Linked DNA regions of Homo sapiens. The protein of the gene in region 1 interacts with the protein of each later gene in a biochemical or structural test. Each region holds a gene or a part of one and is shown in the gene's direction. Other genes may lie near its edges.

Evidence for each region.
Region 2: the proteins of PRELP (region 1) and COL2A1 form a complex in vitro, tested with the Homo sapiens proteins (one study listed by BioGRID).
Region 3: the proteins of PRELP (region 1) and FBLN2 form a complex in vitro, tested with the Homo sapiens proteins (one study listed by BioGRID).

Annotation. Positions count from the first base shown.
Region 1 is NC_000001.11:203,478,719-203,485,822, forward strand, and holds part of PRELP (prolargin precursor), read left to right. Parts: intron 1-4,450; 5' UTR 4,451-4,466; coding exon 4,467-5,439; intron 5,440-7,104. UniProt on the Homo sapiens protein: May anchor basement membranes to the underlying connective tissue.
Region 2 is NC_000012.12:47,973,373-47,980,476, reverse strand, and holds part of COL2A1 (collagen alpha-1(II) chain isoform 1 precursor), read left to right. Parts: intron 1-414; coding exon 415-468; intron 469-912; coding exon 913-966; intron 967-1,718; coding exon 1,719-1,880; intron 1,881-2,078; coding exon 2,079-2,186; intron 2,187-2,359; coding exon 2,360-2,467; intron 2,468-2,823; coding exon 2,824-2,877; intron 2,878-3,049; coding exon 3,050-3,157; intron 3,158-3,321; coding exon 3,322-3,375; intron 3,376-3,557; coding exon 3,558-3,665; intron 3,666-3,909; coding exon 3,910-3,963; intron 3,964-4,406; coding exon 4,407-4,514; intron 4,515-4,871; coding exon 4,872-5,160; intron 5,161-5,614; coding exon 5,615-5,802; intron 5,803-6,145; coding exon 6,146-6,388; intron 6,389-6,923; coding exon 6,924-7,070; 3' UTR 7,071-7,104. UniProt on the Homo sapiens protein: Type II collagen is specific for cartilaginous tissues. It is essential for the normal embryonic development of the skeleton, for linear growth and for the ability of cartilage to resist compressive forces.
Region 3 is NC_000003.12:13,552,110-13,559,213, forward strand, and holds part of FBLN2 (fibulin-2 isoform a precursor), read left to right. Parts: intron 1-7,104. UniProt on the Homo sapiens protein: Its binding to fibronectin and some other ligands is calcium dependent. May act as an adapter that mediates the interaction between FBN1 and ELN.

The DNA of each region.
Region 1 (7,104 bases):
ACAGGCTCTCCTCCCACTGCCCCAGGCAAGCTCATCCTTGTATCGTTTCACCTTCCTAGAAAGGGGCATCTTGAAGTCATCATGCCCCCATAAGGCTCCTTTGTTATCTCAGGACCACATCAGCCCTAATGGGGGCCTTGAAAGGGCCTCAGGCTCACTCCTCTACTAACTCTGCTCATAAATTGGCAAAGACTGCTTGATTCTCCCTGCTTCCAACACCCTTCTGGACTACAGGAAGAGATACAGAGAGCAGGATGGCTTTCAGACACCTAGGTTGAGAACAGAAAGAAGGGAAAAAAGAGAGAGGGGTGTTCCGACATTCACCGGCACAGCGCTAGGTCAGAAGCAGCCCCATTCTCCACTGCAGGGTAGCTCTGGGTCAAGGCATGGAGGCTTAGGGGTGACCAATTAGACAGGAGATCTGACAAGTAAGAAGAATGCCAGTTCAGAGTGCGGCGTAACCCTGCTGCTAGCCCTGCCTAGCCCTGGGAGACAAACCCAACCTCATTCCCAGCCCAACCTCAACCTCTCCATACAAAGCCAATTAGCCTTAAATAGCTGCTCCTAATGACTTGACCAACCCATCAGGACTTCCACCCAACCCTGCCCTGAGCAGAAACATTCCACCACTCCTGGGTTTTAACATTAAATTAATGAGAGAGATAGGGAAGGGGGCTATCTCACTTTAAAAATCAAGGAGTCCTTGGGGCGCTGTGGCTCATGCCTGTAATCCCAGCACTTTGGGAGACTGAGGAGGACAGATCACTTGAGCTCAGGGGTTGGAGACCAGCCTGGGCAACATGGTAAAACCCCATCTCTACAAAAAAGACAAAAATTAGCCAGCTGTGGTAGCACATGCCTATAGTACTAGCTGCTCAGGACGCTGAGATGGAAGGATCACCTGAGCCCAGGGAGGTTAAGGCTGCAGTGAGCTGTGATTGCACTACTGCACTCTAGCCTGGTCAACAAAGGGAGACCCTGTATCACCAAAAAAAAAAAAAAAAAAAAAAAAAAAAAATCAAGGAGTCTCTCTAGAGAATCTGCTGTTTATAAACAAATAAATGAGTAAGTAAGCCTCTGCCACTTGCAGAGATTTTGCACTTTATAACATGCCTTCAAATGCATGATCTCATTTGATCCTCACACAGATGAGGAGCCCGGGTTGGAGAGTCAGAGCCAGGAGTCAAGCCCAGATCCACAATAGTTGGAATTGAAATTAGAATTTAAAACTCTCTTAGAGGCTGGGTGCAGTGGCTCACACCTGTAATCTCAGCAATTTGAAAGGCCGAGGTGGGAGGATTGCTTGAGCTTAGGAGTTCAAGACCAGCCTGAGCAATACAGTGAGACCCCCATCTCATTTTTGTTTAAAGTGAAAAAAGAAAAAAAAATTAAGATTCTCTTAGGAAACGTTCTTTAATGTGGAGAGTGAATGTTGGGTTGGGCAAAGCAATTGCCTTTCTCTTCCGTGAAGCAGCAGCTTTTCCAGAACTGATGGTGGAGAGCAGAACTGCATGCAGTTGGCTGTTGTAGGTGGTCAACAAACCTTCACTGATTGAGCAATGAGCAGAGCCCAGTAGAAAGCTGTGGGTGGAGAAGTGCACTTGTGAAAGCATAAGAAAAATTTAAAAACACACACATGGACCCATCCTAAGGAATCTTATGATTGGACAGAAGTTTCTAGAAGGCAGGAGCATAGAGTGTGGGTCTGAGGCTTTGTAGGAGGGACTATGACTACCCATGGAGTCCAGGTACCCTCAGTCTGTCACACAGATTCTGGTTTCAGAGACCTAGGACATCACGGAGCACTGCCAGAGAGAATGGCTGTGCTGTCAGCTGTCAGAACTTTTCATCCTGCCTCATGGCAAAGCTCCGGCAGGAAGGGGCATCACCCCATGAGAAAAGCCTTAGAAATGAATGCTATTTCCTTAAGAGAGAAGCATCCCTGCACTTGGAATGGTTCTGATTCAGCCCTGGGGCTGAGGGAAGGGGAGGAGAGCAGGCTCAGCTTCCCCACATAACTTGCTCCTGGGAGCATTTCCTGGGGAACCTCCTGTTGGCTCTGGGAGCAGCTTGGCTAGGCCCAGAGGTTTGGAATGTAAACGGGTCAGAGGACTAGTGAAAAGATAAGTTCCCAAAGGGTCTGGTGCTGCACATGGGGATGAGGAAGGCCTGTGTTTACTGTGGATGAGAAGGCGCGCACAGCCAGCCTGCTGGGTGGAGCTGTGAGTAACCTGCCTGTTCCTCTCACCCCTGACAATGAAGACCAGGGCTGCCCTGGCACTGAGCCAAGGAAACCCCGCCCCGCCCAGCACAGGTCACAGCCACAGTGCCTCACTGCTTTTGCTGGAAGCCCTGGGCAAATTGGTGCCCAGTCCCTGGCATATGCTTTCGGTGACAAAGGCAATGAAGGGATATAGAAAAACTCCCGCCAGTGCTGGGAGCCTCCTTGGGACAGGGCTTCTCACAGTATGAAAGATTTCTAGATCATTTCTAGGCTTCTGGGTGATTAGAAAATAAATTTTTTTTTTTAAATCAGGGTCACAAAAATTGAGGCTTTTAGAAATGTTTGTTTTAGAATACCAATGCTTTAACTACCCCCTTAATTTATATGCAAGATGACTGTTCTGTTTTCCAGAAAATTACAGAACTTACACAATGTTAATTCATAGTTCACCAATTACAAGTGAAGTGGGGTTCAGCCAACAAGACTCAAGCTTAAAGTTTTGCAATTAATGCCTTCTCTTTTTAACCCTTGCAATGTATCTCTGACAATGTTATATCCTTAACGGGAGATCAAGCCAAAAACCTAACTGCAAGGTCCTTTGTGATAGGAGGCCAGGGAAAATGGCCTTCCAGACCTCCTTGGAGAGGCCTGCCTTGGAAGAGACCACCTTAGAGGGAGGTGGAGAAAGACAGTCTCTGCCTTCCTTCCCTTCCGCCTTCCTTCTTTCCTTCCAATACTCAGTGTACTGCGTATGGGCTCATATACGCACACAGAGGATAAGTGAGTGAGTTTGCTTATGTGCATGGGACCTGAAGAGGTGTGTGTGTGAGTGTGCAGACTGGATCTGCTGTTAAACAGCATCTTGGCCTTGGCGAGCCACTTCTTCCTTCCAGTCCTCAGTTTTTGCAAATGGTGGGGTCTGGAGTTGATTGGTGGATTTCAAGCCATTTTTAGCAAAGAAACGTGTCCCCTGCCCCTCAACAAATGAATGCTTCGGCTAAACCTCAATATATATAATAGGTTTTTTTAAAGAGAGCTGCTGAGGTTGGCACAGGGATGGGTTGAGGGTACCCCAGGGCCATCTCCTCAGTCTCCTCCCCACAGGGGTATGTCACAGAAATGAAAGCAGAGTTGGAAAACCACTAGGTTATAGGATCTTTAAGGACCTTTCTGGATTTAACCAGGACGCTAAGGTTCATACATCCTAACATCCCTCTCATGAAGACACTGATGATTTTCTCATGCTGTGAATGGGAGGACTGAGGGCCAGAGTGGTTAAGGGTCTTCTCTGACAAGCCCCAGGACTCCTGACTCGGAGTCCAGTGTGCTTTCTTTCTTTCTTTTTTTTTTTTTGAGAAAGAGTTTTGCTCTTGTTGCCCAGGCTGGAGTGCATTGGTGCAATCTCGGCTCACTGCAACCTCCTCCTCCTGGGTTCAAGCGATTCTCCTGCCTCAGCCTCCCAAGTAGCTGAGATTACAGGTGTCCAACACCACACCCTGCTAATTTTTTGTATTTAGTAGAGATGGGGTTTCTCCATGTTGGTCAGGCTGATCTCGAACTCCTGACCTGAAGTGATCCACCCGCCTTGGCCTCCCAAAGTGCTGGGATTACAGGCTTGTATGCCACTGTCCCACCAGCCCCAATGTGCCTTTTTTTTTTTTTTTTTTTTTTTTGAGATGGAGTCTCACTCTGTCACCCAGGCTGGAGTGCAGTGGTGCAATCTCGGCTCACTGCAAACTCCGCCTCCCGGGTTCACGCCATTCTCCTGCCTCAGCCTCCCAAGTAGCTGGGATTACAGGCACCCGCCACCACGCCTGGCTAATTTTTTGTATTTTTAGTAGAGACAGGGTTTCACCGTGTTAGCCAGGATGGTCTCGATCTCCTGACCTCATGATCTGCCCACCTTGGCCTCCCAAAGTGCTGGATTACAGGTGTGAGCCACCGCACCTGGCCACCAATGTGCTTTCTACCAGCATGTCCCCCGCCCTCTTCAGAGCAGGCTCAACACATCGAGTGGCTAAGCCAATGGCCAGGGAATCCAGAGCCTCAAGCCCTTGTTATTCCCTTACCTGCTGGGTACAGGCAAACAAGGAGATGCTTCCACAGCTCCCTGAGCTCTGCCCATCTTCCCTAGAGCTCTAGTTCTGCCCAACTCTGGCTTCAAAAACATGACAACTAGTTACTGAGGGCCCAAGGATAATGACCTTATGTGTCTTCTCCCTGCAGGTGCATCACCTGGATCATGAGGTCACCCCTCTGCTGGCTCCTCCCACTTCTCATCTTGGCCTCAGTGGCCCAAGGCCAGCCAACAAGACGACCAAGACCCGGGACTGGGCCCGGGCGCAGACCCAGGCCCAGGCCCAGGCCCACACCCAGCTTTCCTCAGCCTGATGAACCAGCAGAGCCAACAGACCTGCCTCCTCCCCTCCCTCCAGGCCCTCCATCTATCTTCCCTGACTGTCCCCGCGAATGCTACTGCCCCCCTGATTTCCCATCTGCCCTCTACTGTGATAGCCGCAACCTGCGAAAGGTCCCTGTCATCCCGCCCCGCATCCATTACCTCTATCTCCAGAACAACTTCATCACTGAGCTCCCGGTGGAGTCCTTCCAGAATGCCACAGGCCTGCGATGGATTAACCTGGACAACAACCGAATCCGCAAGATAGACCAGAGGGTGCTGGAGAAACTGCCCGGCCTGGTGTTCCTCTACATGGAGAAGAACCAGTTGGAAGAGGTCCCCTCGGCCCTGCCCCGGAACCTGGAGCAGCTGAGGCTGAGCCAGAACCACATCTCCAGAATCCCGCCTGGTGTCTTCAGCAAGCTGGAGAACCTGCTGCTCCTGGATCTCCAGCACAACAGGCTGAGCGACGGCGTCTTCAAGCCCGACACCTTCCATGGCCTCAAGAACCTCATGCAGCTCAACCTGGCCCACAACATCCTGAGAAAGATGCCGCCCAGGGTCCCCACCGCCATTCACCAGCTCTACCTGGACAGTAACAAGATTGAGACCATCCCTAACGGATACTTCAAGAGCTTTCCCAATCTTGCCTTCATTCGGCTTAACTACAACAAGCTGACAGACAGGGGACTCCCCAAGAACTCCTTTAATATCTCCAACCTGCTTGTGCTCCACCTGTCCCACAACAGGATCAGCAGTGTGCCCGCCATCAACAACAGGCTGGAACACCTGTACCTCAACAACAATAGCATCGAGAGTGAGTGGGGTGGGCCGGGGCGGGGCCGAAGGCAAGGAGGTTGGCTTGTGTAGCACTTCCACCCTCTCTAGGGAGACTCAGGGTGGGGTGGTATAAAAAGCATCCACTTTGGCACTGGACTTCAATTCATGGCCTTGCCACTTGCTATCTGGGTGACCTTGAAAAGATATTTGACCAGTCTGGGAAGTTTCCTCATCTGTAAAGTGAGAATGGTAACAATATCTTCTATCACAAAGGTGATATGAGGATGTAATAGTTTAATATGGAGAAAGTGCCCAGAATACCATACTTGGAGGGTCATAGGTTTTCTTCCTCCATTCTTCCTCAGCCCCAGTTCCTTGGCAACTGGATCTATAGGTAGGGTAGACATGGAATATACTCCTGGACATTCTGCTAAAAACAGAACAGAGACATTTAAATACCTATCCTGAAATGTCCTGGGTCTGCCCTCTGCAGAAACCTGCCCCTGTGGGAAGATGCTTCTTCCCAAGCCTGAGCCTGGGTTTTGATTCAGGGTATGCAACTGGTAAAAATGTGGCAGTCAGGAAAAGAAGGTCTGCATGCTGGTGCTTTCTGAATCTATCTGGAAGGGTGCGATGTTTAGGTGCACTTAAGGAAGAGTTTGCCTAAGTGACATTTACAGGGTTCTGGACTTGGAGTATCAATTGCAGCCCAGGAGAGGAGGCTGGAAGTTGCAGTTTTGCTTCAATCAAAAATTTCAGCTCGGAGCAGAGCATTAGCAGAAAGGTTTAGAAGTGAAATAATATTTTCTGGTCCTTGAACAAAATCAGCCTACATTCACAGAAGGGATGCAGCAGCAGAAGGGAAGAGAGGGATTGAGGGAAAAGAGAAGGACCCCTAGAATGATATTTGGGGATCCTTAGGTTCCAAACCAAAGAATGAGATGGAGATTGTTGGTGTCTCTACCGACACCAACAATGGGCGAATAGATCGTTCACTCATTTGGGATAATTTCAAGAAGTAGGGGAGGATTTTTTTTTTAATCTTACAAAAAAAAAATGGGAAAAGGGGAAGACTGTATAATTTTACCCTGGAGACAGCACACTAAAATAAAACACATTACCCCCAGGAAGCTATGAGGCCAAAATACAGACAGAAGGGATACCTTGATTAATAAATGGCTGATAGGTCTCTACCAGATTGTGGAAGAACAGGTTGCTGGAGGATATCCCAACCTTCTAAGGTTGAAGTCAGAGAACTCACACCTCACCCACATGAGCCCACCCCATCCAGCCTGTCTCCTGTGCCTTTTACCCGACAGAATGGGCTGAGTGGGGCCTAGGTCAGTGGGGTGATTACGTTCTTCACAATGACCATAATGCTGCCACTGGTACTGTCTTTAAACAGCTTACAAAATGCCTTTGCCAACATTCTCTCCCCTGATTACAGGGCAGGCACCACTCTTACCATTTCACAGATTGAAGAACTCAGCATGAGGGTGGCTAGGCCACAGCCCCAAGCTCATAAGAGAAAACCCCCGTGTCAGGGCCCTTCTGCTACTCCAATGGCAAAGAAGAAAGACGAGGAAAAGGAAGAGGAAGACAATTACAATGAAGATGATGCCTACTCTTCCTCCTCCTGCTCCTCCATAAATGATAAGTGAGGCAAGGCTTAGGGAGAATAAAACAGTTCATTTAAATGCTG
Region 2 (7,104 bases), on another chromosome or scaffold:
TGCGCAGAGGATGGTTCGCAGGCCTGGGAACACCCCCATGTTGGTAGAAGGAGCTTCCATGTGGCATGTGGGCTGTGTGGGTGGGGTGTAGGGACTGACAGAGTACAGGCTGGCCACAGCCAGCCAGAACCAAGCTGCTGATCTCCTGGGGAGGAGGGGGCGGTGGCAGGAAGAGCTTCCCGGGAGGCCAGACCCCAGACCGGTTCTGTGGTTGCCTGACAGGCTTCTCCTAGAACACAAGTCTCCTGTGGCAGAGGGGACAGAGCTGCCTGTGGCAGCCTCTTCAGGCTGGGTTTTTAGTGCCAAGAAAGCTGCATCTTCGAAAACCTCAGGGGTCCATTGTTGGGGCTCAGACAGAAGCCCACCGTCTTCCTTGGGCCACTGGGCCTCACTGTCTCCCTCTTTCCTTTCCAGGGTCCTACTGGAGTGACTGGTCCTAAAGGAGCCCGAGGTGCCCAAGGCCCCCCGGTGAGTGAGGCCTCTGACACCCCACCCTGCACCTCACAAAGAGGCCTGGCCCCAGAGGCTCCCATGGCGGGGGTGTTCTGGGATGCCCCCGACTGTTTTCCCAGCCCTGCGTTGGTCCCCAGCCTAAGCCCACCCACAGCCAGGTGGGAGAGAGGGCGCCTGTGGGCTGGGTGCACTGTGGTCCCGGATTCCCCAGCCCGAGGCTTGTCCCTCGTTCAGCTCCCTGAAGTGCTGACTGTGGAAACCGGAGGCAGGGAAACAGCCTGTGCCTGCTTCTATGACCAGACCCGGGGGCCCTTTCTCCCTCCCTGGATCCCCCTTGCTGCTTTGCAGTCCCTCGCCCTTTCCATACCAGGCTCTGAGACCACCCCCGCCCCCCGCCCATTTTAATCTCAAACCTCCTGAGGGCTTGAGGTTCTCAGGGGCTCTCCTCTCCCCACACAGGGAGCCACTGGATTCCCTGGAGCTGCTGGCCGCGTTGGACCCCCAGGCTCCAATGTAAGTGATGCTCCTGGCATGAGAGGCACAGGCAGGCATGGAATAGCCTGGCCCAGCACCCAACAGGGTCTGGAGAGCTCCAGGCTGGCCTTCACTCCTCTGAGTCCGTTCCTGCCCCCTGGAGGAGTAGCTAACTGATCATGGGGACCTATCCCCTGAGGGTGGCTGGGGGCAGGGTTGTGGCCCTGCTGTCAGCAATGGGTGGCTGCCCTGCTGGCTTGGTGGGCAGGACAGGGCTGCCATGATTACCTTCATCCTGGACAGATGTTTCTTGAGCATGTTCTGTGCACTTGTCTGTGTGCTTTAAAGCAAGTCCGCATGTCCTGGGTCGCTCTCAGGGAGTTTGCATGGAGGGAGCAGTGGTGATGAACTCACTGGGTTCACCAGCGCCATAGGCAGAGGGAGAGAGTGCTGGGGGCAAGCTCAGGGGTCAGAGGGGCAGGGCTGGAGCGGCTCCTGAGGAAGGGGGATTGAGGACAAAGGGAGGAGGGAGGAGAGATTCCAGGTAGATGGGAGAAAGCAAAGCAAGCAGGAGCTGGAGAAGTTGGGGCTGTCTGCCCAGAGCTGTCTCACATGGTGAGAAGGTTGCAGCGGTAGATTGGGGTTGGGGGGGTTAAGCTGCCTGCCCTTAGTGTGGGGAGGTAGAGAAGCCCCCAGAGAGGAAACTGCTGTCACTGAGGCCACAGTGACTTTGGCAGCCTGGATGAGGAAGGGTGAGATGAGTCCTCACTTCCCGCATTTTCTCCTTCTAGGGCAACCCTGGACCCCCTGGTCCCCCTGGTCCTTCTGGAAAAGATGGTCCCAAAGGTGCTCGAGGAGACAGCGGCCCCCCTGGCCGAGCTGGTGAACCCGGCCTCCAAGGTCCTGCTGGACCCCCTGGCGAGAAGGGAGAGCCTGGAGATGACGGTCCCTCTGTAAGTCCCTCACCAGGCCCATGCCAAGGTCCCTGGGAGCAGGGTCGTGAGTGGCTTCTGAGCTCACAGAGCATGGGGTAGGAGGGAGCAGGGGCCGTGGGGATGCCAGGGAGCGGGGCTGCACAGACAGAGCTGTGCTGAGAGGACAGAAGAGGCTGGGCCACTGTCAGTTCTCATCTCCTGCCTCTCCTCTCTCAGGGTGCCGAAGGTCCACCAGGTCCCCAGGGTCTGGCTGGTCAGAGAGGCATCGTCGGTCTGCCTGGGCAACGTGGTGAGAGAGGATTCCCTGGCTTGCCTGGCCCGTCGGTGAGTGTGGGGTATCCCTCCCTCCATCCAAGCTGGGCCCTGCCTGCCAAGGCTTCTACCTCCCTCAGCACCCTCAGGACTGTCCCTTGTCTGCCCTCTCCCTGAAGGGTCAGTGGGCCCTGGGCAGGGGTGCTTACCACTTGCACTCATCATCCTTGTCTCTGTCCCTCCAGGGTGAGCCCGGCAAGCAGGGTGCTCCTGGAGCATCTGGAGACAGAGGTCCTCCTGGCCCCGTGGGTCCTCCTGGCCTGACGGGTCCTGCAGGTGAACCTGGACGAGAGGTGAGCAGTGAGACCCCCTGGGGTGGCCCTGATTGGGGAGAGGGGCCCTGTGAGTCTCTGTGCTGGGTCAGCAAGGACAAGTCCCAGTCAGGGCCCTGGAGAAGGGGGTGGCAGTGTCGGCCGACAGGCCTGAAAGCCTAGGTACAATGGGAAGGTTGTCGGGGAGAGAGACGGGCATAGAGACCAAGGGCTGCTTCCGGAAGGAGGAGGGAAACTTGGTGAGGAAACTTTGGCTTCAAAGTGTGAGTGAGTTGGGCAGAAGAGGAGAGGCCTGGGCTTCTGAGAGGGGCTGGGGGAGCAGAGGGGGAGATGGGCAGGAAGCAGCTCTAAGTGCATTCTTGTTTCACTTTGTCCAGGGAAGCCCCGGTGCTGATGGCCCCCCTGGCAGAGATGGCGCTGCTGGAGTCAAGGTGAGTGTCTGGTGTCTGTGTGTGCAGTGGGTTGGGGAGGACATTGCCTCGGGCCTGACAGGTCAGCTGGGGGTGGCAGGTTGGAACAAGTCTCATCTCAGCCTAGAAGGACCTTCTGTTCCTGTCTCTTCTGGAACATTCTTCTCTGAGCCTGAGACCTCTCTCCTGACAGGGTGATCGTGGTGAGACTGGTGCTGTGGGAGCTCCTGGAGCCCCTGGGCCCCCTGGCTCCCCTGGCCCCGCTGGTCCAACTGGCAAGCAAGGAGACAGAGGAGAAGCTGTAAGTATCCTGAATTCAGTAAAAGCCGCCTTCCCCTGCGCGGTGGGGCTGAGGCAGTCCCTGGGTTTCCGCAGTCTCTGGACTAAGGAGCAGTGGCCTCAGATGCAGAGGAGGCCCCCACCTGTCCTGGCTTTTCTCTGACGCTGCGCTCACTCTCTCCTCAGGGTGCACAAGGCCCCATGGGACCCTCAGGACCAGCTGGAGCCCGGGGAATCCAGGTGAGTATCCAAGTGTCCTGCACTGAGTCCCCACCAGGGATAGGCTGGGAGGGCAGCCAGCCTCCAGGTGGTTCCTGGGCCTCCAGCCCTGTGTTTCCGGGGATTCCTCAGCTTGGGTGGGACAGGAGGGGGCTCCTGTCCTGGCCCTGACCTGACTCAATCGGTGTCTGTCTTGTTCCCAGGGTCCTCAAGGCCCCAGAGGTGACAAAGGAGAGGCTGGAGAGCCTGGCGAGAGAGGCCTGAAGGGACACCGTGGCTTCACTGGTCTGCAGGGTCTGCCCGGCCCTCCTGTGAGTGTCACTGCCTGCGTGGGACTTCCCGAGGCCTCCTGCCACACAGAGCCCACTTGAGCTCCCTGTGCTGCCAGGACAGCTTGGGATCACCCTAAGCAGTTTCTAGGATTTCCTCAGGGCTGGAGGGAGGAGGAAGTGGAAAGGGAATGGGGCTGGGACATAAAGCTGTTCCCCCAGCTCCCAGAATATAGATAGATATGTCTGTGCTGACCGTGGCCTTTTGCCTCTTCCTTCTACACAGGGTCCTTCTGGAGACCAAGGTGCTTCTGGTCCTGCTGGTCCTTCTGGCCCTAGAGTAAGTGACATGGAGTTGGAAGATGGAGGGGGCCCTTCAGAGAGTGTGGGCCTGTGTTCCCATGGGGAGGGAAATGCTGCTGCTTCTGGGGAAGCTGTGGGCTCAGGGGTCCTCACTCAGTAATGGGGGCAGGACTGGCTCATGTGCCTATGGCCAGAAAAGCGCCTGAGGCCACAATGGCTGTAAGACAAACATGAATCAGCCTCTCGCTGTCAGACAGAACAGCATTTTACAAAGAGGAGCTTAGGAGGGTAGGCAAGCCATGGAGCTATCCTGCTGGTTCTTGGCCAAATAGAGACCAACTTAGGGTTCCATGACTGAGCATGTGAAGAACTGGGGGCGGAGTGGCTGGTGCTATCAGGACAGCCACCTACCCAGCCCCAGCGACTCCCCAGCCTTCCCTGTGGTGACCACTCTTTCCTCACGACCTCTCTCTCTTGCAGGGTCCTCCTGGCCCCGTCGGTCCCTCTGGCAAAGATGGTGCTAATGGAATCCCTGGCCCCATTGGGCCTCCTGGTCCCCGTGGACGATCAGGCGAAACCGGCCCTGCTGTAAGTGTCCTGACTCCTTCCCTGCTGTCGAGGTGTCCCTACCATCCGGGAGGCTTGAGCTCTTTTTTGCTCAGGGCCTCTTTTAGGGCATCAGCCTGCAGCTAACAGTGATGGCATCCTTTATCCTGAGGTCTCCTCAGAGGTCACAGGGCCCATGATCAGTGCTGGGAAACTGAAGAGAAGGGCTAAGGAAGAAATAGACATGGTGCTGTGGTTTCCTTGGTCCTCGCCTGCTACACCTCCGCCCCACCCATGGGGCTGGGAAGAGGGACACTCTAGTACATTCTAGCAAATGGGGATGGACATGGAGGGGCACTTTCACACAATCCTGGCTGATCTCTCTGTTTCCTGCTGCAGGGTCCTCCTGGAAATCCTGGACCCCCTGGTCCTCCAGGTCCCCCTGGCCCTGGCATCGACATGTCCGCCTTTGCTGGCTTAGGCCCGAGAGAGAAGGGCCCCGACCCCCTGCAGTACATGCGGGCCGACCAGGCAGCCGGTGGCCTGAGACAGCATGACGCCGAGGTGGATGCCACACTCAAGTCCCTCAACAACCAGATTGAGAGCATCCGCAGCCCCGAGGGCTCCCGCAAGAACCCTGCTCGCACCTGCAGAGACCTGAAACTCTGCCACCCTGAGTGGAAGAGTGGTAAGCTTGGAGAACAGGATCCCCTGCCCCGGGAAGCAGGGAGTCATCCCTTAGGCCTAGCAGCAAGGGAGGAGATGCCCCCTAGTACAGGGCAGAGCTGGGCCTGGAAGTTTCCGCCAGAGGGTTCCTCTCTTATTTCACAGCAGAGAAGCTGCAGCCCTGGCCCCTGTCCTGCCATGGCTACCTGGCCGAGGTGACCTCAGGGTGGACTCCATCCACCAGCTGGGCACTGCTTCTGCTCTCTTTGCATGTGTTCTTCCTTAGGGCTGGACTTAGCTCATGCAGATCTCCCTGCCCCTGCATCCTCCCAGGTCCCCCTCCTTTCAGGCCACATGTGAACCTCATCCCTTGTCCCTGTAGGCCTCTCTGTCTCTTTCAGTCAGGCCTGGGTCTCTCAAGCTTTTGTGTCTGTGCCTGTCTGAGCCCCCATGGGTGCTGCCTCTTCCCCCTGCAGGAGACTACTGGATTGACCCCAACCAAGGCTGCACCTTGGACGCCATGAAGGTTTTCTGCAACATGGAGACTGGCGAGACTTGCGTCTACCCCAATCCAGCAAACGTTCCCAAGAAGAACTGGTGGAGCAGCAAGAGCAAGGAGAAGAAACACATCTGGTTTGGAGAAACCATCAATGGTGGCTTCCATGTGAGTACCTGGGTGCCCTAGATGATGAGCAGAGATGGCTCCTCAAACTCTTTCTTTTCTTTCTCCCTGGAAGCTTTTAGCACCTTCCCCATATTTTCCTCCAGTTTTCTGTTGGGCTTGAGAGGAGGGAAAGAGGAGGAAAAGTATTTTTTCCCCACGTGGAGGTGGGAAAAGAGGTCCTCTGAGCTTGCTCCACTCCTGGAAGCAAAAATGTCCAACTAGCTCCCTGCTGCCCCAGTACCCTTGAGGTCCTTGAACCATGAACTCTTGGCAGCCCCTACAGCCCCTGGTCCCATTGAATGCCAGCTCCCAGGCCTCACACTGCCGCTCTCTGCCCCAACAGTTCAGCTATGGAGATGACAATCTGGCTCCCAACACTGCCAACGTCCAGATGACCTTCCTACGCCTGCTGTCCACGGAAGGCTCCCAGAACATCACCTACCACTGCAAGAACAGCATTGCCTATCTGGACGAAGCAGCTGGCAACCTCAAGAAGGCCCTGCTCATCCAGGGCTCCAATGACGTGGAGATCCGGGCAGAGGGCAATAGCAGGTTCACGTACACTGCCCTGAAGGATGGCTGCACGGTGAGTGGGGCTGCCAGAGAGAAGAGCTGCCTGTGCCCAAACCGCCTGGAGCAGGGCTGAGGGTTGGCCCGCGGCAGCTGTCAGGTCCTAAAGTGACAGGATCATCAGAGGCATGAGTTTGAGGGTCATGTAGAGAAGATAGGCTGAGTGACAGGTGAGAGAGAGGCACATATCATTCCATCTTCTCCATTCCCCTGGCTCAGGGGAACAAAACCCTACCTGGAACCCAGTGACTACTGTAGAAGTGTTCTCGCAATGTGTACAGGGTGAAGAAGCGGTCACAGGTTGGGAGCTCACTGTGGGGAGTGGGGAAGGAGGGGAAGGGCAGGGTGGAGAAGGGCCCTGCCGCTAAGGATAGGAGTTGAAGTGGAGAGGCCTTTGGCAAGCCAAGAAGAGGTCTCAGGAGCCCCCTCAGTGTGGTTCAACCTTGTGGGCTCTGATGCTCGCCAGTTTGTTCAGTTTTGGGCTTCTGGGCAGCTGGAACTGGGTAGCAAGGCATCTACTGAACAGAGCCTCCTCCTTTTTTCTCCCCTAGAAACATACCGGTAAGTGGGGCAAGACTGTTATCGAGTACCGGTCACAGAAGACCTCACGCCTCCCCATCATTGACATTGCACCCATGGACATAGGAGGGCCCGAGCAGGAATTCGGTGTGGACATAGGGCCGGTCTGCTTCTTGTAAAAACCTGAACCCAGAAACAACACAATCCGTTGCA
Region 3 (7,104 bases), on another chromosome or scaffold:
TGTGATGAGGAGCTGCTGGTGGATTCTGGTTTGGGGAGGGGTGGGGTCTAATTGAGATCCTAAAGGTCCCTTCCCCCACACTGCTGCTGGCAGGGAACAGGCTGGAGGGCAGCTGTGGGGATCCATGCAGCTTCCAGGTGAGAGAAGTTGGGGCTTGGATTAGGGCAGTGGCAGCATTGGAGGTGAGAGTGGTCAGATTTGGACTGACTTTGCAGGTGGGGCTGCCAGGATTTCTTGATGGATTGGAAGTGGAGTGAGTGAAAGGGGAGGCCAGGGTGAGGCCGGCTGTCCTGCCCGGTGGTGGACGTAAACACCATGCATGGCTTCTGGTCCTTAGCAGCCCTCTGTCATCCAGTTTCCTTCCCCAGGTCCCCGAGTGTGGGTGGTGCAGGTGTCCGTGTGGCTGCAGGCAGCTCTGCCTCCAGGGCGCCTTCTGAATGCTGGGGCTGCAGAGGTCTACCCTCCCAATAGACCAGACAGAGGCGCTGCTCCTGTATGCTACAGGGGCAGAGGGGACCACAGGGCTGTACCTCCAGCCAGGCATTATAGGGTGGTGGGAGCAGTGGGTTTGTGGCTTCACCTCGGGAGGGCTGGGAGCTGTGACTGGGTGTTGTGTGGGGGCGGCCAGGGAGGGGCTCCCTGGAGTTGGCGTTCCTGCTTTAGCAGCTCTATGAAACCCTTTGCCAGGGAGTGTGCCCAGGGCCTTGGATTCTCTTCATCACCCCACAGTGCTGGCAGTAGCCTCTGGTGTGGGCCAATGCTGTGCCAGGGGCTGGTGTACAGAGGAGCGGAACACAGGGCCCCTTTTAAGGTCATCCCCAGGGGTGCCTGCATGGGTTGCTCTGAAATGCTTTGTCGGGGCCATCCTGGAGGAGAACGCTGAAGCCATGGGAACTGAGGAGGCATCTAGCTGAGCCTGGGTGGTCAGGGAGGGCTTCCTGGAGGTGGCGCAGGCACTGTGATATGAAGGTACAGGGGTGAGGGGCACCTGGGGACAGAAGAAAGCCTGGCTTCTTTCAGAGTGGGGGCTTGGAGGAAGAGTGGGAAGTAAGGCTGGCAAGGCCAACTAGACCCTGAAAACGGAGGCCCTCCAGTCCTGGTCTGCGAGCGAGCAACAGGCAGCCTCAGGGCGTTCCGAGCAGAGGAGGCGCGGCCAGACTGTGAGGTTGAAGGGTCCCTCTGCAGCCCAGGTGTAGGAGTGGGCCTGGAGAGGACAAGGCGGCAGGTGGGAGACCTGTGAGAGTGACAGGGCCGGGAAACTGAGGCGCAGAGTGGGGCGTGCTTGCCTGCAGTCACATAGCGACTGAGGAGGAAGAGCTGGGACGGGAGCCAGCTCCGTCCACCTCCAGGTCCTGCCTGGCGAGCTGCCCTCGTGTACGGGGCACCACTGCACGCCCACACCACAAACTCGCCTCAGCTGGGCACGTCCTTTCCCAGGGCCCCTCGTGGGTCAAGCCGTGCGTCATTTTGTGCCATTGTCTTCAGTTATTGGAATTTGGAAACGTTGCAGAAATGCCTCTCTCTCCCCTCATATATGGAGATTGTTGCAAAGCAAGTGCTGGTTTGGGGAAAGGTTATTTCCTTCCTCGAGGGTGGGGAGCCTGGCTTTCCTGAGAGGGGCTGTATTGTAGGCGGCCAGTGCGTCCCGCCCAGGTCTGTGTGCTGGTGAGGAAGTGGTGCCACCCACCTGTGCCGGGCCAGGGATGTGGAGGGGAGCACCCATGTGCTCAGGCAGACCCTGCCAGTCCCAGGTCTCACACCTTGTCGGGCTTCTGGTTGCTCATCTGTGAATCGGGGGCGCCCCCCTGGCTATGCTGACATTGTTGCCCAGGAAGAGCCTTGAAACAGGAGGAGGGCTCTGAAGTGTGATGAGGCCCAGCTGGGCGCGTGGGGAGCACCGTGGGAGTTGAGCATTGCCTGGGCCTGAGCCCCCGGAGCCTGCATCATGAGGGATTTGTCTCCTATCCTTAGCTTCTCAATCTGGAAAATGGGCCTGGTGGTAGGGGCCCCCAGTAGGGTTGGTGTGAAGGCTGAAGGATGAATGGAGAGCCCCAGGCCCACTCTGGGGAGGCGGACAGTGCTGCTGGCCGTAGCTGGTTCTTGAGTGTGGCTGAGTGCAGCCACCTGTGTCTCCCGTGGCTTCTGTCTTCTGGCCACGGAGACACCATCATCTGTGTTGGGGCCAGCCCTTGGGCTTGTGATCGGGGTACCCCAGTGCTTGATAAGCCTCCCAGAGTTCTTCCCTCCTTAGCCTGGGACCCCCATCCTGGCCCTGAATTCCCAGCCCCAACCTTGGTCCCAAGTTGAGCTTTTAGATGATCCAGAAAGTTCTGTTCTTCTTAGAGTCTCCTCAAAATGAAAACACATCGTCAAAAAACATTGATGAGCATGCATGCGCGTGCCCACACACACGTTCTCTCTTTCTCTCTGTCTCTTGTCTGTCTCTGAAGATCTCGCTCATCACTGTGTTTTCTTAGACAACTTCCCTAGTCCTCGTGGTGGTTGGTGTTGGCTGAGCATCTCAATGTCCTCCCTCATCTCTGCTCCCCTGCATGGCTGTGGAAACAAATTAATTTCACCGTTTTGGCCCATGGGCATCCCAGGGGCCCTGATGGCTGTTGTCTGATTATGGGGCTGGTAGAGGCAGAGGGCTTCTACGGGGACCTGTGCACTTTCTTGGGGAATAAGCCAGAGGGTGTCAGCTTCCTTTCTGACAGAGTGAGGATGAGTTTCACCACCGTGTTTTCGGCTGCATCCTCCTACCTCCTGTCCTTGACATCATACTTAATAACTTAATGTTATTTTAAAAAATCCCTTCCCTGTTTTGCTTATATTTACTTTTTTTTTTTTTTTTTTTTTTAAATACTGAATTTTACTCTGTCACCCAGGCTGGAGTGCAGTGGTGCGATTCCGGCTCACTGCAACCTCTGCCTCCCAGGTTCCAGTGATTTTCCTGCCTCAGCCTCCCGAGTAGCTGGGACTACAGGTGCGTGCCACCACACTGGGTTAATTTTGTATTTTTAGTAGAGATGGGGTTTCACCATGTTGGCCAGGCTGGTCTCAAACTCCTGACCTCAGGTGATCCACCTGTCTTGGCCTCCCAAAGTGCTGGGATTACAGGCGTGAGCCACTGTGCTTGGCTGCTTATACTTACTTTTAAAGGAAACCTTTGATCACAACTGTAGACAGAAATCAGGATCACTTGTCCTAAACCAGCAATACCCATAAAAATAAATATGGCACTAAAAATACAGTGCTTAGCATCTTAGCCACCTTGTATGCCCTGCCACAGCCTTGAGCCCGAGTGAGTGTTCCCTGTTTTTTTTTTATTTATTTTTATTTTTATTCATTTATTTATTTTTTGAGATGGAGTCTCGCTATGTTGCCCAGGCTGAAGTGCAGTGGCGCCATCTCGGCTCACTGCAAGCTCCGCCTCCCAGGTTCATACCATTCTCCTGCCTCAGCCTCCCGAGTAGCTGGGACTACAGGCGCCCGCCACCATGCCTGGCTAATTTTTTGTATTTTTAGTAGAGACGGAGTTTCACCGTGTTAGCCAGGATGGTCTCGATCTCCTGACCTTGTGATCCACCCGCCTTGGCCTCTCAAAGTGCTGGGATTACAGGCGTGAGCCACTGTGCCCAGCACCCTGGTTTTTAAAAAGAATGGTTGGCAAGCGTCTGAGAGGTGTGGGAGGCACACCCGTGCTGTCTAGAGACGGTCTCCAATAGCCAGATTGGTTCAGAGGGATTCGCGGGGACATTTCCTCACAAGATCACCGAGCGTTGGTGCTTGTCCCTGAAATCAGCTGTCCTTGGAACAGTCATCTCTATCCCTGCCCAGGAAGTCCCCTGTGGTAGGGGCGTCACATACCTCACATCTCCTGGGGCTGCCTTGGCATGTTTCGTGCTAGGCTGGGGTTGATGGAGGAGGCCCCAGCCCTCTAGCAGGAATGTCTTCTCTGAGACCAAGTGTCTGGCTCTCAGGGAGTGGCCATGTCCTCTGTGCCCCCAGCTCCGTGCCCTAAGACTGTCCTGGCGGGTTCCGGCTGCTATAACAAATGTCACAGATGAGTCGGGGAGGAGATTGAAGATGGACATTTATTTCTCAGTTGTGGAGGCTGGAAGTCTAAGCCCTAGATTTCGTTCCTGGTGAGAGTTTTCTTCCCGGCATGCACGTGGCTGCCTTCTTGCTGTGTCCTCACAAGGTGGGGGGTGGGAAGCGGCGGACGGAGAGAGAGAGAGAAGGGAAGAGAGGGAGGGAGGGAGGGAGAGCTAGTGAGCTCTGGTCTTTCTTTCTGTAAGGACACTAATCCACACATGGGGGCTCCACCCATGTAACCTCATCTAAACCTCCTAATGGGGGGCCCCACCCCCTGATACCATCCCACTGGGGTCAGGGCTTTCACATAGAAATGTAGGGAGGACACAGATGTTCAGCCTGTAACAGACTGGTTTAATGAACTGCTGAGGATGGAAACACTGTAACACCAGCTGCCAGTCCCTGTGTGACCCCAAGGCAGGGTGTGGTGGGGAGGCCATGGCTTCCTGTGCATGGGATGGGAGGAGTGACCCCTCTTTGGCCCTAGACGTTGGGGTTCCCAGGGTCTGGTTGGGCATCAGCACATGACACTGTAGCCCACCTATGACCTGGGCTTGGTCCCCCACAGTGACTTCGGAAGTTGGCCTGCCCATTGCTGGAAGCAGGGGCCCCTTTGCACAGGCTTGTCTGTGTCTGAGGCTATTCAGGAGACGTAGGGGCCCCACTACATCCTCCTGGAAGGACTAGTGATCTGTCAGCCCTGGGTCAAGTTGCAGCCACCAGGACTCCCTCACGCCCCATCTTTCTTTTGTCTCTGCCTTTCTCTGTGAGCCTGGTTGATTCTCTCGAAATGAGGCCCGCCACATGGCAGGAAATGTGCCCACCTTCAGAACTTGCTGTTTCTTCCTCTGCAGGTGGTCTGTGCTTTCTTTTATTTCCACTTCAAGAGCTCAGGGAGGAGCTGTGACCAGCCCAGCCTGGGAAGAACATCTGCCCTGGGCCAGTCAGCTGTGGCTGGGGAGGGTCAGGAGGTCATGCGTTGATGTGGCCCCAGGCGCATGTCTGGAGCCATTCCCTGAGCCTGGGGACTGAGCGAGGCAGCCTGCTGCCCTAGGAGGGGTCTAGTCTACTGCAGGGACACATAACCCCAGCAACTCAGACATTTTGGGGTTAAGTCAGCCATGAATACAAGAAGGTGGTTCTTCTTTCTTTGTTTTCACAAATGTCAGGATAATTTTGGTTACAGGTGATAGAAAGTACAATTTCAGCAAAAAAGTCATGGAACTAAAAAAATACAGGGTGTAGCTTCAGGCATGGCTGTATCCAGGGCCTCTGCAGATGCCATCAGGACCGGGTCTCCATCTCTTGCTCTGCTGTTCTCTGTGTTCCATACTCCCAGGCAGGCTCTGCCGTGTGGTGGTCAGGTGCCCCAGCAGCTCCAGGCTCACCCTCGAGCTCAGAAGCTCTGGAGCAAGGCAGCCTCCTCCCAGGAGCATCAGCATGGGCCATGTGACTGGGTCGTGTGACTGCTCTGACCTGTCACTGTGGATGGGGCAGGGACTCCTCTCATTGGCCATCCAGCAGTCCACGTAGCCTGAAGTGTGAAGGGGGGTTCCCCAGAGGAGAAAGGCTGCAGTGATTAGACCCACTGTGCAGATGAAAGCATTGCTGCTCAGAGGGTCACATGCTCCGAGGTGCCCAGCAGCCTAGTGGCAGGGCTAGGTTCAAATTTGAGCTCTGATCTCTGGGAGTCCAGAGCTTGGTCCTGCTGGCTGTCTCCCTTGGCTTTGGCAGCAGGGGCTGACTGCCTTGGGGGCCTCCAAGGCTCTTGAGCCCAACGGTTATACCACAGACTGGGCCAGACCCCGCTGTTGGTTGTACACTGGCCGCCTCACTGGCAGCCCTGAGAAATTCCTAAATTTCAGGGCCGTGCAAATAAATTGGGCACAGCAAAGGCCTGAGGGACTCGCAGAGAGACTGGGCTGCCCGCTCCCCTGGCTGCTGCCTCCTTCCAGATGCTGTGGTGGCCAAGGGAGCCTGGTTCTGCCGTAGGCCGGCCCCGCCTGCCTGTCTCCATCGCTGTCTGTCTCTGGCTGTCTGCTTGGCTTTCGGTCTGTGCTTCTCTCCATCTCTGTCTTGGTCTCTTTCTGTCTCACTAATGGATCTCTTTCCTTGTCTCTGTCAGTCTCTGTGTCTCTCTCTGCCTGTCTTTTGCTGGCACCACTCCCCCCACCCCGCCACCCAAGTCTAGGATCTCAGCCCTTTGTGAGACTAAAAGGCGGACGCAGGAGTGAAAGTGCCTCTGTATGAAAGGTGGACACGTACCTTGGTTGTTTAGGTCACTTAGCCAGTGACTAGCCAGGTGACTTCAGGGAAGCCTTTTCTGTTTCTGAAGGCCCTTCTGGGATACTCACATTCATAATTCATCCCATCCTCTCTGCCAGCCCTGTGCTCGGGCCATACGGATTAATTAATCTACCCCTCTCCACTCACCCACCCATCCATATACCCACACACCCATCCATCCACCCGCCCACCCACCCATCTGTTCACTTACCCACCCATCCACCCACCTACCTACTTTTTTAGCCACCCATCCATTCACTCGTCCATCCATCCATCCATCCATCCACCCATCCACCCACCCACCCACCCACCCACCCACCTACCTACCCATTCATCCATCTACCTACTTATCCCACCCTCAGGGCTTGGCTTTAAAGCATGGGGTGGGATTTGGGTGTTCAGGGTTCTAGGAGAGTTTCAGGAGAGAGGGCATCGCAGGTTGAGCTAATGATGAGAGAAAGATAAGGGGTTGGGAACTAGAGAGAGTTTTCCAGTTTAGCAGGAGTTGGGTTTGTGGAGGACAACAGAGGGGGATGGGTTAGGAAAGCTAGGTGGGGTTAGTTGGTGAAGGGCTTTGAATGTCTCCGTTAGGAGTTTTTTCTTTATCCTTGGGCCACAGGACTTCAGCCAGGGGTCTGTGAGTGGACTGCAGGGAGTCTATGAAACTCCCTCACATAGCAGTTTTAGGTATGTGCCCATATGTCTGTTAAGGCTCTTGGT